2 separate regions of the Homo sapiens genome follow, and region 1 is linked to region 2. The links come from fine-mapping of genetic effects on gene expression. Tissue or cell type: whole blood. Region 2 holds a variant in brackets; the other region holds the start of a gene. All regions are shown on one strand. Distances are from middle to middle.

Evidence for each region. PIP is the estimated chance that this variant, and not a neighbour inherited with it, causes the effect.
Region 1: it holds the start of SEC23B, and the variant in region 2 is fine-mapped to the expression of SEC23B in whole blood (TOPMed, PIP 0.99).

What each region holds. Positions count from the first base shown.
Region 1 is chr20:18,503,372-18,511,476 of GRCh38, forward strand. It overlaps SEC23B (SEC23 homolog B, COPII component), which reads left to right and starts at 4,569. Exons shown (of 20, transcript NM_006363.6): 1 at 4,569-4,601; 2 at 7,451-7,685. The coding sequence starts at 7,465. It also overlaps the pseudogene RPS19P1. RefSeq lists enhancers at 4,110-4,439, 4,790-4,839.
Region 2 is chr20:18,563,193-18,571,297 of GRCh38, forward strand. It overlaps SMIM26 (small integral membrane protein 26), which reads left to right and starts at 4,240. Exons shown (of 2, transcript NM_001348957.2): 1 at 4,240-4,404; 2 at 6,044-6,368. The coding sequence starts at 4,287. The coding sequence ends at 6,213. RefSeq lists an enhancer at 3,928-4,027 and a silencer at 4,091-4,373. The variant CT/C (reference allele first, on the strand shown) is at 4,484.

The DNA of each region.
Region 1 (8,105 bases), 60 kb before region 2:
AACACAAAAATTAGCCAGGTGTGGTGGCCTGCGCCTGTAATCCCAGCCACTCACGAGACTGAGGCAGGAGAATCGCTTGAACCCAGGGGCAGAGGTTGCAGTGAGCCAAGATCGTGCCACTGCACTCCAGCTTGGGCAACAGAGAGAGACTCCATCTCAAAATAATAATAATAAAATAAAATAAATAAAAGAATTTAGACTCAGGCTACAGATGATGATAATATGTCAGAAAAATTATGAAAGATTTTGAAATAGTCAAAAGAGGTTACTGGGTGAACTTTCTGTGGAGTGCTGTGCATTTTTAAAAGACTCTCTGGGGGCCGGGAGTGGTGGCTCATGCCTGTAATCCCAGCACTTTGGGAGGCCGAGGCGGGCAGATCATGAGGTCAAGAGATCGAGACCATTCTGGGCAACATGGTGAAACCCTGTCTCTACTAAAATTACAAAAATTAGCTAGGCATGGTCGTGTGCACCTATAGTCCCAGCTACTCGGGAGGCTGAGGCAGGAGAATCGCTTGAAGCCGGGATGTGGAGGTTGCAGTGAACTGAGATCGCGCCACTGCACTCCAGCCTGGCGACAGAGCGAGACTTCGTTTCAAAAACAAAAAATCCCCTGGGTCATTTGCCGTAGGAGGGATGTACCTCTGCCTTTGAGTATGCTATTTTACAACTCTGTAGAGATAGAAATTAACTTATAGAAGATAGTAATGCAAATGTTCCCTGCCCACAACAATGAAAACTATTCCTGTCCACAGCAATGCAAATCAATTTTGTGTGATAGAGAATATGTCACTATAAATCAAATTCTCCTTAGAACCAGTCTGAACATCCCTCCTGGTCGTAGGGATTAATTAAAATCAATGAATGAGTTAAGTAAGATCTTTGGCACATGTTCATTTTATATTTGCATGAAGGCCATAATTTTACCTTTTGAAACACTTTAACAGTTTTGAAGCTTTCACCAACATCCCAATGGATTCACCTGACAGAACCAGGTAAACCACATTACTGAAGAACACCCCATGGGGCTAAGCCCAAGCACATTTTTTCCTGGCTCCGGGAGTGAATACCAAGTAGCAATAGTACTACAGCGTTGCTGACTTTCTCCCTAGGTTTCTTTCTCCTCCTTACTGATTTTGGGTTTTGTTTCTGATTCGCCCACAGCTGGCGGATTTTTCCCCATGAATGGCGACACCAATTAGGAACTCGCGGGAAACCCCGTTGCTCCCTTTCCCCTGGCTGGCAGCGCGGAAGCCGCACGATGCCTGGAGTTCCTGTAAACCACGTGAACCAGCGGGACTTCGTCAGAGCTCTGGCAGCCTTTCTCAAAAAGTCCGGGAAGCTGAAAGTCCCCGAATGGGTGGACACCGTCAAGCTGGCCAAGCACAAAGAGCTTCCTCCCTACGTTGAGAACTGGTTCTACACACGAGCCGGTTCCACAGCGCGGCACCTGTACCTCCAGGGTGGCGCTGGGGTTGGCTCCATGACCAAGATCTATGGGGACGTCAGAGAAACGGCGTCATGCCCAGCCACTTCGGCCGAGGCTTCAAGAGTGTCCTCCGCCGGGTCCTCCAAGCCCTGGAGGGGCTGAAAATGGTGGAAAAGGACCAAGATGGGGGCCGCAAACTGACACCTCAGGGACAGAGAGATCTGGGCAGAATTGCCGGACAGGTGGCAGCTGCCAACAAGAAGCATTGGAACAAACCATGCTGGGTTAATACATTGCCTCATTCAGAAAAAAAAAAAAAAATTAGGAACTAGGTTTTACATTCTGAACATTTGGTGATCTCTTTAAGTGAATTAATAGTTTTTAGAGATCTATTCTCTTTTGGATAAGAGATGATGAAAAATCTGGTTTGTTAGTCTTTTTGTTTGTTTGCCTTTTTGTCTACTTATGAGTTCAAATCAGTTAAGACTTCCATGCCCATTGGGAAGGAGAACAGCTTTTTGTTATCTAGTCCACTGAATTTTTATGTTTCTGAATTTACTTTCGACCTGTGGCCAAAGTTGCAGAACCAAAGCTATATGCTATGTGTCTATGTGTCTTCCCGGCTGTAATCAACAAAGGCCTTCCCCTCTTGTTGTGGGAGTAAAAAAATCTTACTACCTTTGTAAAGTTTTAATAAGTTATATTATTTCATGTCTTAAAGGAGCTCTGTTATAATTCACTTATGGAAACAAACACATGTAAATCAATTATTTCTAAAATTCCAGAAAATAAGTAAATTAAACTTATGCATGCAAAATTTCTTAAAAATGCTGAAACCATCCTGACAGGGTTAACAAGATTACAAGCCAGCCTTTAGGCAGGTTAGTTAGGCACTGACCAGGGTGCATTGGTGCCCTTCAATTCACTTCCCTGCAGCTGCTAACTAACCAAAAGCCTTGCAGCACACTGATCACCTACTCCCTGATTGCTCCTATCCACAGAATCTCTGACACTAGCTCTTTGTACCCAGGAATTGCTTAAGGTATTTTTCAGATCCTGAATTCCCACAAAACAGCTGATGCCAAACTGTCTAGGGATCCCCACCAGGAAGGGCACAGTGGCTCACGCCTGTAATCTTAGCACTTTGGGAGGCCAAGGTGAGAGGATCGCCTGAAGCCCGGAGTTTGAGACTAGCCTGGGCAACAAAGTGAGACCCTGCTTTACAAAAAAAAAATTTTTTTAAATAAATAAATAAAGACCTCCACCAAGAAACAACACTGGAATGAAGTTTCTTCATCTCCCTGTCCCATGACTTCACCTCTCACTTCCTGACCAATCAGAAATCCCCACACTTTAGCCCATTGCCCCTCCAGACTTCTTAAAAATGCCATCTCTAATCTCTTGGGGAGGTGGATTTGAGGATTGCTCTTGTCTCCTCATTTGGCTGCCACTTGATTATGGAACTCTTTATCTGCTGCAACTCCTATTCTTTCTGTTACCGCACAATGGACAATCGAACCTGATGGTCCTATAACAATCTTTCTTACAGAAATTGCTAGTACAGAAAGAATCCAGGTTCAAATAATCAAGGCAAATCTTTGGCGAATAATATTAAGTTTTGGTTAAAAAAAATCCCAGCTATGTCTTTTCTCAGTGTTAAGTATTATACATGTGTACATTTTGAGTTTGTTTCCTTACCGAGAATAATTAATCTGAACTTCCTAAATTTATAAAAGTTTACTATTGATAAGCTAATATTAACATTACATTGTTTAAGATCCTGAAAAATGTGAATTTGTTCAACAAAACTGAATCATTCTCACATTTAACAGTAATTGTTTCTTTGTGCCTTAAACTATTAATAATTTCTATGATCTGTAGATAACTTAAAACTTAGTATTAAATTGAGCTAATTAATGGATACTTCTTGGATGCCTAGATATGTTCTTGCATAATTTTATGTTTACATCGTTTTGCTTATTTTTATATGCTACAGAGACTACAACTCTGAGTCACAGTAATGATGTGTTCATGTTTGCCACTTGTCAGCGTGTGTAAAAATGGTTGTGGTGGCTTTATACAGTTGTGTTCTATCGCGCCTTTTGCAGCAACATGGATGCATCTGGAGGCCATGATCCTAAAAGAATTAACGCAGAAGCAGAAAACCAAATACATGTTCTCACTTGAAAGTGGGAGCTAAGCATTGGGCACACATGGACACAAAGGTGACATTAATAGACGCTGGGGACTACTAGAGTGGGGAGGGAGGCAGGGAGGGGCTGAAAAACTTGGGTACTATGCTCAGTATCTGGGTGACCAGCTCATTCGAATTCGAAACCTCATAGCCAGGTAACAAATACGCAGTGTACCCCCTAAATCTAAACGTTGGAATTATTTTTTAAAAGAAAGTTATGTTCCATGTATTTCTAAGCTTACTCTCCTAAAATGGTTGAATATTACAGTTCTCAATTATTTATCTCCATGTAGAAGGATGACAGGGACTGTGCGCTAGTGCCAGCCTCCGCTGAGAGCGCCAAGACATTACAGCAAGCGACGGTAGGAGAGCTTGTAACGTGAAGCACCACCACACCTCTGTACTTCAAACTTAACCACAGAGACCGACTCCCAAACCAGCAAGTGCGTAAGCGCCGCCGCGCTCACCACCCGCCCCGCCCCTTCCGCATGCTAATGCCTTCTTCCGGCAGCCTTAGTTTCTTCCAACCAGTGCAGCTCCCTGTTCCGCGAGCATACGTCATCGTTCTCGCTTTCCGGTAGCTAAGGCGATCAGCGGGACTTCCCACTGAGACGAGCGGATGTCATATTGTATCAGGGCGAACCTCTGAGGAGCGCTGGCTGCGCTTAGGCAACGGTGCGGCAGGCGCCGGGGTTTTCTGAAACAGAAACGTTTAGGGGTGGGGAAACGTGTTCCGAGGAACTCTCGTTTTGAAGTGCGACATACACCTGTCTTGCCCTGTTCCAAGATGGTGGCAGAGCTTCTCTGAGTCTCTCGCTTCCTCCAGTCCGTCGGAGAAGCGCTCTTTGATTGGCCAGTGGACAGCGCCGTGGCATGACGCGCTGGGGCGCTGGCCAATCGGTTGAGAGCTGAGCTGGACTTGGCGGTGGGAGCCGGAGCCTGCTTGTTGCAGCTGTGGGTGAGGACGGCTCTAGCTAGGTGAGCGGCTCCGGCCAGGTGAGCGGGGCGCATAGGTGACGGAGGGCCGAGGGCACGGGTATGAGTTTCTGCCGGGGGCGAGGTGAGCGGCTTCTGGGAGGAGGCCTTTTCTTGACAGTTTAGGGTAGCGGGGGAATGGATGATCCGGGAGTCCCCTGCGGATGTCGTCCCGCACCAGGCCGGGACCGATTTCTGGCTCCAGTTTCCCCAGAATTGCGGAGTGCGCACACCTGGAAGGACCCAAGTCCCGTTTTATAGTTGAGAAACTCAAGACTCAGACAAGTGAAACGACTTTTGCTTCATGACAGCTGGAACTGGAACCCAGGTCCTTGGACTCCCTTCAAGGATTAAACCTCACTTATTCTTACATACACATGGTCACTGTGTCCTGAGAAGTTACGAGTTGGCGCGATAAGGGTGGTTCAGATTTTTTGGCATATTCTCCTGTTATCTTTCCAGGCCTTTCATTCATTCACTAATTCATACTTTCAGTTATTTACCTCTTCAGATACCTTCCCCGATACTTTGGTAAAAGCTATGGACCCATCTCCCTAGAAAAACGGCATATTCCCTCATGCGCATAACTTCAGATGATTAGTGGACCTTCTATAGTCCCCTTGGATTATGTGTCCACTGCTAAGAATCCAGACCCTAGAAGGGTGAGGGAAACAGGCAGTAGGAAAAGGAGGGAGCAGGTCTTAGGCTGTACATGCTTGGAAACCATTAGATGGAGGCAGTAGCTTCTTTTTTTTTTTTTTTTTTTTTGAGATGGAGTCTCGCTCTGTCGCCCAGGCTGGAGTGCAGTGGCGTGATCTCGGCTCACTGCAACCAATGCCTCCCAAGGTCAAGCAGTCCTCCCTGCCGCAGCCTCCCGAGTAGCTGGGATTACAGGCACCTGCCACCACGCCCAGCTAATTTTTGTATTTTTAGTAGAGACGGGGTTTTGCCATGTTGGCCAGGCTGGTCTTGAATTCCTGACCTCAGGTCATCCACCGGCCTCGGTCGCCCAAAGTGCTGGGATTACAGGCGTGAGCCACCGCGCCCGGCCGCCAGTGCCTTTTAATAAAGAACGTTTTGAGAGAGAGACGGTTATTTAATGAAATCTGCTGACATACTTGCTGAGAGTTGTGATAGAACTTGCTTTCATTCCGACTTTAGTTATCCCTTTGCTTCCCATGAAGCTCCAGAGTGCTTCCTGTGCACACAGTGCTTCAGGTTCTTGCCGTTGCCAGAAATAAACAGATTTCTTAGAGTTTCAGTTGGAGCAAACATTGGAATTCTTGTGTTCTGGGCTTTATGTAGTAGAGTAATTCATTTGCTTTTCTAGCCATGCAATATTATTGCCTTAATCAAAATTATTTACAGTATGGTACTTCCCAAAATAACAGACAGTTGTTATCCATATTCAGGAAGTGGGCGCGAGAGGCCACTTTAATTTGATAGACTCTTTAATTTGCCTTTTTACTACTTTTCTTGAGGGGCTTGTTCCCTTGAACCCCAATAGCTGAGTTGTGTGTTACCCTAGATTTTAGGATATGAACAGGATGTATAAATACTCAATGAAGTTGGGATCATCTGGGTTTGAGAGTTTAGCCTGTAGGACAGTTTTACTGACCACAGTCTTCATTTTTTTTTTGAAACAGAGTCTGGCTCTGTCGCCCAGGCTGTGCAATGGCATTGTCTCGCCTCACTGCAATCTCTGCCTCCCGAGTTCAGACGATTCTCCTGCCTCAACCTCCTGAGTAGCTGGGACTATGGGCACGTGCCACCACACCTGGCTAATTTTTGTATTTTTAGTAGAGACGGAGTTTCACTGTGTTGGCCAGGCTGGTCTTGAACTCCTGACCTCGTGATCCGCCCATCTCAGCCTCCCAAAGTGCTGCGAGTATAGGTGTGAGCCACCACACCTGGCCTTGACCACAGCCTGTCAAGGCATGAACATAAGCAACCGTGGTGAGGAAAGAGGTTCTGGTGAGACTCAGCATAATAGTAATTTTGGTAATACCAAGTAGAAATAATTTAGCTCAAAACTGGTTCCCATTATGAACCAAACTTGAAGATCAGTATCCAGCTCTTTTCTCCAAAGTTAACAAAGTGCGGAAGGGAATGAGCACCCCCCCGCTACTGAAAAAAAAATCACTTGGAATGTAAAATTTAATAGAGGAAGAAAGGAAGGAGATTAGAGAGGAAGATAGTTGGATGCCGAAACAGGGTTCAAGACTTACCCTTGAGCAAGGGGCTGAAATTGGCTTGACTGATAGGACGTGTGATCTGTGAGGAGGTTTGAAGTAGTAGTGTTTAACTACATGTAGTTTGGAGATGATCAGGTGATTGTAAACCTCCCACTCCTTTGATTTATTTTTAAGTGCTTGAAAGGAGAGGTGAGAAAGGAGCAGTGATCAATGATAACTGTGCGGTTAACTGACTTTTGGGTATCAGATGGAAAAGAAATACTGTCATTCTACAGCAACAGGTTCTTCCCAAGTATTTAAGAAACACTGTGTTAGTTGGGCCGGGTACAGTGGGTCACGCCTGTAATCCCAGCACTTTGGAAGGCCAAGGCGGGTGGATCACCTGAGGTCAGGAGTTTGAGACCAGCCTGGCCAACATGGTGAAACCCTGCCTCTACTAAAAATACAAAAAATTAGCCGGGCTTGGTGGCACAGGCTTGTAATCCCAGCTACTTGGGAGGCTGTGGCAGGAGAATCGCTTGAACCCGGGAGGTGGAGGCTGCAGTGAGCTGAGATGGGAAAAAAAGAGAAACACTGTGTTACATGACCCATCTTCTTTTTTTGACATTTAGTTCAGAATTTCACATACCATTAAGGTAATTAAAGTTTTATCTTCAGTTCCCTTTTAGACTATGGCGACATACCTGGAGTTCATCCAGCAGAATGAAGAACGGGATGGTGTGCGTTTTAGTTGGAACGTGTGGCCTTCCAGCCGGCTGGAGGCTACAAGAATGGTTGTACCCCTGGCTTGTCTCCTTACTCCTTTGAAAGAACGTCCAGACCTACCTCCTGTACAATATGAACCTGTGCTTTGCAGCAGGCCAACTTGTAAAGCTGTTCTCAACCCACTTTGGTATGGATTCTTTTGAAACTGGTAAAAATGATAAATACAATATATTATGAATTTTATGTGATGCTCATAAAAGTCATTAAATTTGGGCAGGTCATCAAATTTGTGATAAGTAGTAGATGATGAGACTCCTAAACGATTCTTGTGGTGAGTAGTAAGTGGTGAATATTTGTAGAAATCTCCCTGGCCTGATAATTCCAGATAAAATTGGAATCTTACAGGAATGAGGTAGAGGTAGAGGGAGAGGATTTGTAATTCACTTTTTTTTTGGCTGATAATCAGTTTGCTTTTGGCTTAACTGTAGACTTTATTGATTCCTCTTAAAGTAATTTCCCAGAAGAATTCGAAAGCTTAGACCGTCTTCTCATGCTTCCCGGGTACAGTGATGCTATATGGCAAGGAGAAGTAGCAGGCAGAAGAAAT
Region 2 (8,105 bases):
TAACTATCCGGTACTTGTTGTCTATGGAGTAGTCTTCTAGGCATTGGGAATACTGCCAATAAAACAAAAATTCCTGTTTTCATAGAGCTTATGTGTTAGTTAGGGAAGACCAACAATAACAATGTTAGAAGTAAATGATATGGCCGGGCGTGGTGGCTCATGCCTGTAATCCCAGCACTTTGGGAGGCCGAAGTGGGCGGATCACCTGAGGTCAGGAGTTTGAGACCAGCCTGGCCAACATGGCGAAACCCTTTCTCTATTAAAAATACAAAAATTAGCCAGGCATGGTGGTGCACACCTGTAATCCCAGCTACTTGGGAGGCTGAGGCAGGGACAAATTGTTTGAACCCAGGAGATGGAGGTTGCAGTGAGATTGTGCCACTGCACTCCAGCCTGGGCAACAGAACGAGACTCCGTCTCAAAAAAATAAAAAACAAAAAAGAAATGAAGTAAATGATACATTAGAAGGTAATGAGTGCTATGTAGGAAAATGAAGCTGGAAGCTCCTATTAATTGGATGTTGGAACAGCTGGATTGATTGCAATACTCTGTTTTGAATTTGTATTCGAATACAAGTTATTGTATTTCTTTTTGTCTCTGCCCTACATTCTAGCAGAATTCTAGCAGAGTTTCCTATCTTAAAATGTTGAACATTGGCCAGGTGCGGTGGCTCACACCTGTAATCCTAGCACTTTGGGAGGCTGAGGTGGGCAGATCACTTGAGGTCAGGAGTTCAAAACCAGCCTGGCCAACATGGTGAAACCCCATCTCTACTAAAAATATTAAAAAATTAGCCAGGAGTGGTGGTGGGCACCTGTAATCCCAGCTACTTGGGAAGCTGAGGCAGGAGAATCACTTGAACCTCGGAGGTGGAGGTTGCAGTGAGCTGAGGTCACGCCACTATACTCCAGCCTGGGTGACAGAGGGAGACTTCATCTCAAAAAAAAAAAAAAAAAAAAAAGTTGAACATTTACATTTTTCTGTGCGTTTTCCAAGAATATTTTTAGTTTTGGATATAATTTTTAACACATCATATAGAAGAATACATAAAGTTGTCTGTACAGATTAAGGCCAAAACATCCTCTTTGGCTTTTCTGTTTCAAATTAACAGAAAAAAGACTGTGTGATAGACCCAGCTAACTCTGCGGTTCTCTCTAGTGTCAGTGAGTTAAGGAGCTGAGGGAACTGCATGGTATGACATGGCCATGCAGGTCCCACCTTAGGGTACCAGTGACGTTTTTCCACAGAATGTAGGGGGTGGCAGGGTGATAGTGCTGTGTGGAAAACAGCTATCATGAGAAGGGGCCACTGAGCCCAGTATGCCCAGTGAGGACTCTGAACTCCATCTTTTTATTAATTGTTAATTTTTGTGGGTATTGAACTCCATCTTGAAGGTAGGGCAAGCCTCTGACTTATCTTAGGCAGAGGGTGAAATGATAATTTAAGGTTTGAAAGACACTCCAGAGGGGGAAGGATGAGAGGAGACTGTAATCCAAGTGAGAAATGAGGCCTAAACAGAGACAGGGTATTTAGACAGAGGTGACAGAGGATGTCAGGTGAGATGATTCCAAGTTCCTGGCTTGGGCAATTTCTCAATCACTCTCTGAATCAGGGAAGAGAAAGGGAAGGTTTGTTTCCTGTTGGGAGTGGCATTGATAAATTCAATTCGGAACATTTTTTTAGTTTCAGGAGCTTGTGGAATATGCAGCCGAGGATGCATAGCAGGTTGGCAGTAACATGAATTTGCTTTCAGAGAATCTGGAGTAGATTTGAGAGTTATTAACATATAACATAGGTATCATGAGTAAGGCTGATGAGAAGGATGAGAAGAGACGCAAGCTTGAAACAATACCAATTTTTCTGTTTTGTCTATAACTATTGAGCTATAGTTCACATATAATAAACTGCACCCATTTAAAGCATACAATTGGATAAATCTTGACAGAAACCACCACAATAATCAACATACAGAACATTACCATCACCTCTCAAAGTCTCCTCAGACCCTTTTAGCCCTTCCCTCTCTCCATGCCCTTACTGCAGACAACTACTCATCAGCTTTCTCCCACTGGAGTTTGCTTCTAGAATTTCGTGACTGGTTTCTTTGGTGTCTAGCTTGCTTTTTCACTTAGCATAATCCATTTTGAGATTCATCGTATGGTTGTATTTATCAGTAGTTCTTTTTTTTTTTTTTTTTTTTTTTTTTTGAGAAGGAGTCTCACTCTGTCACCCAGGCTGGAGTGCAGTGGTGTAATCTCGGCTCACCACAACCTCCGCCTCCTGGATTCAAGTAATTCTCCTGTCTCAGCCTCTGGAATAGCTGGGATTACAGGCGCCCGCCACCATGCCCGGCTAATTTTTGTATTTTTAGTGGAGACGAGGTTTCACCATGTTGGCCAGGCTGGTCTCGATCTCCTGACTTGAGGTGACCCACCCATCTTGGCCTCCCAAAGTGCTGGGATTACAGGTGTGAGCCACCCGTACCCAGCCAGTAGTTCCTTTTTATTTGTAAGTGGTATCCCACGTTTTGTTTAGCCATTTACTCGATGGGTATTGGGGGTGGTTTCTATTTTTTCCTATTAAGAATAAAACTATGAACATTCATGTACATGGCTGTGTGCAGACACAGGTTTTCATTTCTCATGGATAACTAGAAACGGAATGCCTGGGTTATATGGTAGGCATATGTTCAACTTTTTAAAAACTAAGTTTTGCAAAGAGATTGTAACATTTTATGTTCCCATCAATAACAGTTCCAATTATTCCAAATCCTTACAGCTCTTGGCATTCTCAATCTGATTTTAGCCATTCTAGTAGGTGTGTAATGGTCTCTTATTGTATTCTTTTAATGTCCATTTCTGTGATGACTAATGATGCTACTGTGCTTATTGGTCATTTGTATATCTTCTTTCGTTCTATTCAAATTTATTGCCTGGTTTTTAGTTGGGCTGTATTTTTATAACTGAGTTGTAAAGCGTCCTCATATATTCTGGATCCAAGTCCTTTTGTTAGATATATGTTATTATGAATATTTTATTCTGTGGCTTGGCTTTTCATTTTCTCAACTGTGACCTTCAAAGAGCAAAAATTTTAATTTTTTTTTAAAAGCCCTATTTATCCATTTTCGCTTTATGCATATATATATAAAATGAGATGGGGTCTCACTATGTTGGCCTTGCTGGTCTGGAACTCTTGGGTTCAAGCAATCCTCCCTGCTCTACCTCCCAAAGTGCTGGGGTTACAGGCATGAGCCACCCCGCTTGGGATGCCTTTTTTATTCTAAGAATTCTGTGCTTATTCCAAGATGGCAAACATATTCTCCTGGTTTTTTTCTAGGCTTATATTAAATAGTTTTAGCTTTTACATTTAAGTCAGCGATCCATTCAGAGTTAAGTTTTTTATCTATTTCTGTAGGGCAGAACATCAGTTTTTAAAGGGTGGGCAAGGTGAAAAGAACCCTGAAGGATACCAGGGAAAATGATGTTTCTGAAGCCATGAAAGGTGCAGGTGGGGTCAGTGGTGGCAAATGCTTTCGAAACCAAGTTTGAGTGTGGCTGAAAAGTACTTAACGTTAATTTACCGGGCCTACCTTGTGCCAAGCACATCACACTTGCTCTTAAGTTGTTCAGTCTATTGAGGGCATCTTGCTTTAAAAAATGTATGCATAAGACAAAAGCTGGAGGTGGTCGGAGTCGAAGGAGATTTTTTGTTTTTGAGACATGGGCACGTTTGTATGAAGGATAAACGTCAATAATGAAGATGGGGGAGGACTTAGGGTGTCAATGAGGGGAAAGGCCACTGAGGCTGGAAAAAATAGTACCCAGAGCCTAGTGGAGGGATTAGCTTTGGCCTGGAAGTATTTAAAGTTCACCCAGAGTTCCGGAAAGAAAAATGGAGGAAAAGAAGAGTTGCGGGGAGAGACAAGCGGTATCCCTGCAAATCTGAAAACTGGAAGAGGAATTGGAAGTAACCTTTTCGGATACCGTCTGGAGCCCACGAAGGCATTACAATTTTGCAAGTGAGAAGCTTCTCCTCTAAGTTGTCATTTAGTCCTCGTCACGTGGTAAAAAGTATCGCACGCCCACAGTTCTACACCCGAAAGTCCGGACACCTGAGCGACTTTCCGGGCCAGAGGCCCCAAGGTGCATCGGGGCAGAGCCGGAAGCGGACGCTGAAAACTGGCGGCTCCTTAATGGTTCCGGCGGCAGGGACCGCAGCGACGCCCTCACCGGAAGTCCCGCCTCTGCCGTGGGCCTGCGAGAATCGAGGCACTCGCTGGCGTACCCATGTATCGAAATGAGTTCACGGCCTGGTACCGGCGGATGTCGGTGGTCTACGGGATCGGCACCTGGTCTGTGTTGGGCTCACTGCTTTACTATAGCCGGACAATGGCGAAGTCGTCAGGTAGGGCTCTTCGGCGGGGCCTGCCCCGGAACACACGGCCTTCGATGAGAGTTCCCCGGGGGTCATGGAAACAACTTCC[CT/C]GTCCTTTAAATCCCAGGTTTATTCTGCAAAACTAATTGAAACGGGTGCTAACAGCCGTTTGTTATAATGGAATCTGCAAAGAACTAGACTCCAGGAATTATTAATACCTTGTAAATATTGTTTCCTAAATCTGAATCATTTACTGGATAGGGCCGTCCCCATATTCAGAATTGGAGGAATCTGTGTAAAGTGCAAGGTGGACTTTCAGAGACTCTGGCCGGTGATTTTTAAAGAGTGATGCTTCAGTACTACTGTCCCTCATCGTATATGGCGAGCAATTTCAGTACTTTTAGCAGCCAAGGCGTATTAAAATCTTCCAGTTACTAAGCGCAAAGGGAGAAAAGTCTCTCAGCTTTGAAAAATATGCTGGAAATCTGTAGAGACATTAAGTTGATTAGTGTGGTTGCTAGGGGCTGAGGGGTTGGGGAGTTGGGGAATGACTGCCAAAGGTATGGATTCCTTTTGTGGATGAAAGTATTTTTAAATTGATTGTGGTGCTGGTTGCACAAATCTGAATATACTAAAAACATTAAATTGTATATTTTAAGTGGGTTAATCGTATATGTTAATTATATCTCAGTAAAGTTGTTGTGTAAAAACTATGCTGAAGATTACATTTGGTGATGAAGCTGTCAGTGGCCTGAAAGTACATGTGTCCAGCATTAAGCATTTAAAAACATTTTGGCCGGGTGCAGTGGCTCACGCCTGTAATCCCATAACTTTGGGAGGCCGAGGTGGGAGATTGCTTGAGCCCAGGGGTTCGGGACCAGCCTGGGCAACATGGGGAGACCCCCATCTCTACCAAAAGAAAAAGAAATTTTTATATATAATATTTTATATTTACTTTATATGTAATATATGGTAAAAATACTTTACATTTATATATAAAGTAAAAATATTTTAATGTCCATATTTATGTTTTCTTTCTTTCGTTCTTTTTTTTTTTCTTTTTGACAAGGTCTCACCCTGTCGCCCAGGCTTGAGTGCAGTGGCATGATCTCGGCTCACCACAACCTGCGTCTCCGGGCTCAAGTGATTCTCCTGCCTCAGCCTCCCGAGTAGCTGGGATTGCAGGCGCAGGCCACTGCTGCCCGGCGAATTGTTTTATTTTTTTTTTGAGACAGAGTCTAGCTCTGTCGCCCAGGCTGGAGTGCACTGGCGCTATCTTGGCTCACTGTAACCTCCATCTCCCAACTCAAGCAGTCCTCCTGCCTCATCCTCCCCAGTAGCTGGGGTTATAGGCCCATGCCACCACGCCCAGCTAATTTTTGTATTTTTAGTAGAGATGGGGTTTCACTACGTTGGCGAGGCTGGTCTCAAACACCTGACCTCAGGTGGTCCACCTGCCTCGGCCCCCACAAAGTGAGATTGGGATTACAGGCGTGAGCCACCGCACCCAGCTTTTCTTTTCCCTTCCTTTTCATTCCTTCCTTCATTATTGGGGTTGGAGAGAGTGGATGTAATTCTTACCTTAGTTAATTTCTAAGACTTTAATGACTGCTTTCTAAGTTAATAATTCAGGTGTTCTTTTTTTTTTTTTCTCTTAATGGTGATAAAGTAGACCAAAAGGATGGCTCAGCAAGTGAAGTACCCAGTGAACTCTCTGAACGCCCAAAAGGATTTTATGTGGAAACAGTTGTCACATATAAAGAAGATTTTGTTCCAAATACAGAAAAGATCCTCAACTATTGGAAATCATGGACTGGTGGCCCTGGTACAGAACCATGACTGGCTGCTGAATTCTGAAAACCAGGACTTGGTTCAACATTTAAATTTGATAGTTGCCCTGATTCCCATTTTGGGTTTGTGAAAAGTGTATGTATTTAAATTTGCTGTAAAACATAATCACTAATAATATGCAATAAATATTTTCTTGAAGGAAACTATCTGCGTTTTCTTTTTTTTTTTTTTTTTTGAGACGGAGTCTTGCTGTGTCACCCAGGCTGGAGTGCAGTGGCTCGATCTCGGCTCACTGCAAGCTCCGCCTCCCAGGTTCATGCCATTCTCCTGCCTCAGCCTCCCGAGTAGCTGGGACTAAAGGCGCCTGCCACCATGTCTGGCTAATTTTTTGTGTTTTCAGTGGAGACAGGGTTTCACCGTGTTAGCCAGGATGGTCTCCATCTCCTGACCTTGTGATCCGCCTGCCTCAGCCTCCCAAAGTGCTGGGATTACAGGTGTGAGCCACGGTCCCCGGCCTACTATCTGCATTTTCAAGAGGTGTTCCTCTGTATTTGCATGAGTGAAAGATTGCTGTGAAATTTCACATAGAGCTTCCATAAGCTTGATTTCCTGAAACTAGTTAATGTAGATTTATATTTCTTTCATGTTGCTATTAGGCACAGCTTTAGTGGTCGCTTTAAGGTTAGTTTCAGCAAATCTCCATATTCACTTTGGGATTCACAGTAGCCCTTTGGGTACTACTGCGTACTGGGTAAGTATGATATAAATTTGATTGTAACTTCTGAATTAAACAGACTGGACCTATTCTTTAGGACCAGTGCACATACCCCTCATTCCTTCAGCAAGTGTGGATTACCCACCAACTGTGGCCAGTGCTATTCTAATGCTGGGAATGCAGTCAGGACGACATGATTGATGCTGAACCAGTTTCCTCAGTGGTCTCTTGGTTGCAGGCAACAAACACAAGTGAGCTTAAATCAAAAGTGGGTGTTTATAAAAAACGTGTATTGGTAGCTCAGAATTAAAGCAGAGAGTATGGGCCAGGAGCGGTGGCTCACGCCTGTACTCCCTGCACTTTGGGAGGCCGAGGGGCGGATCACAAGGTCAAGAGATCGAGACCGTCTTGGCCAGCATGGTGAAACCCTGTCTCTATTAAAAATACAAAAATTAGCTGGGCATGGCACCGCGCACCTGTAGTCCCAGCTACTTGGGAGGCTGAGGCAGGAGAATCGCTTGAATCTGGGAGGCGGAGGTTGCAGTGAGCTGAGATCGCACCACTGCACTCCAGCCTGTTGACAGCGAGATTCCATCTCAAAAAAAAAAAAAAAAAGCAGTATGTTGTCTTCAGAAGGCCTGACACTGGGACCAGAATGCAGGCAGCCACTTGTTGAGCCTGCCTGGGCTCTTGGCCTTGCTTTTCTTATTGCACACCAGCTGCTTTTCTCACCTTTCTGGAGTAATACAAATATCCCAAGAAGATACTACCTCCCATGTGCAGTGCCAAAGTCTGACCAGCCTCTCCTCAACCTGGTCTTTGGCTTCCACCCTTGCGAGAGACTCAGTTCAGTTTTTATCAGATCCCTGCCTATGGATTATAGAGTACTGCCTCAGTTATGAATAAAGTGGCATTTGTTTCTCATTTAGGTAGTGTTTTCCTGTTCATAGCTGTTGGGACCCTGTGAGTAGAGATGTGATGTGTGGTAGGACAGGAATTGGGCATTTCAGGGTTCCTCTACAGTACTATGACCTTCAGACCCTCATCTTGATTTCTCATTGGTGTCAGTTCCACCATTATGGGTGGCCTGAGCAGTGCTGTGGTGCAGTCAGCCTTAGTGACAAGGATTCCAAAATCACAAGTAACAGCTCCAGATGCTGGTAGCAGAGACTCAGCTTCCCAAGGGATATCAGGTCAAGCATGGATTCGTGCCAATTGGCTGTGT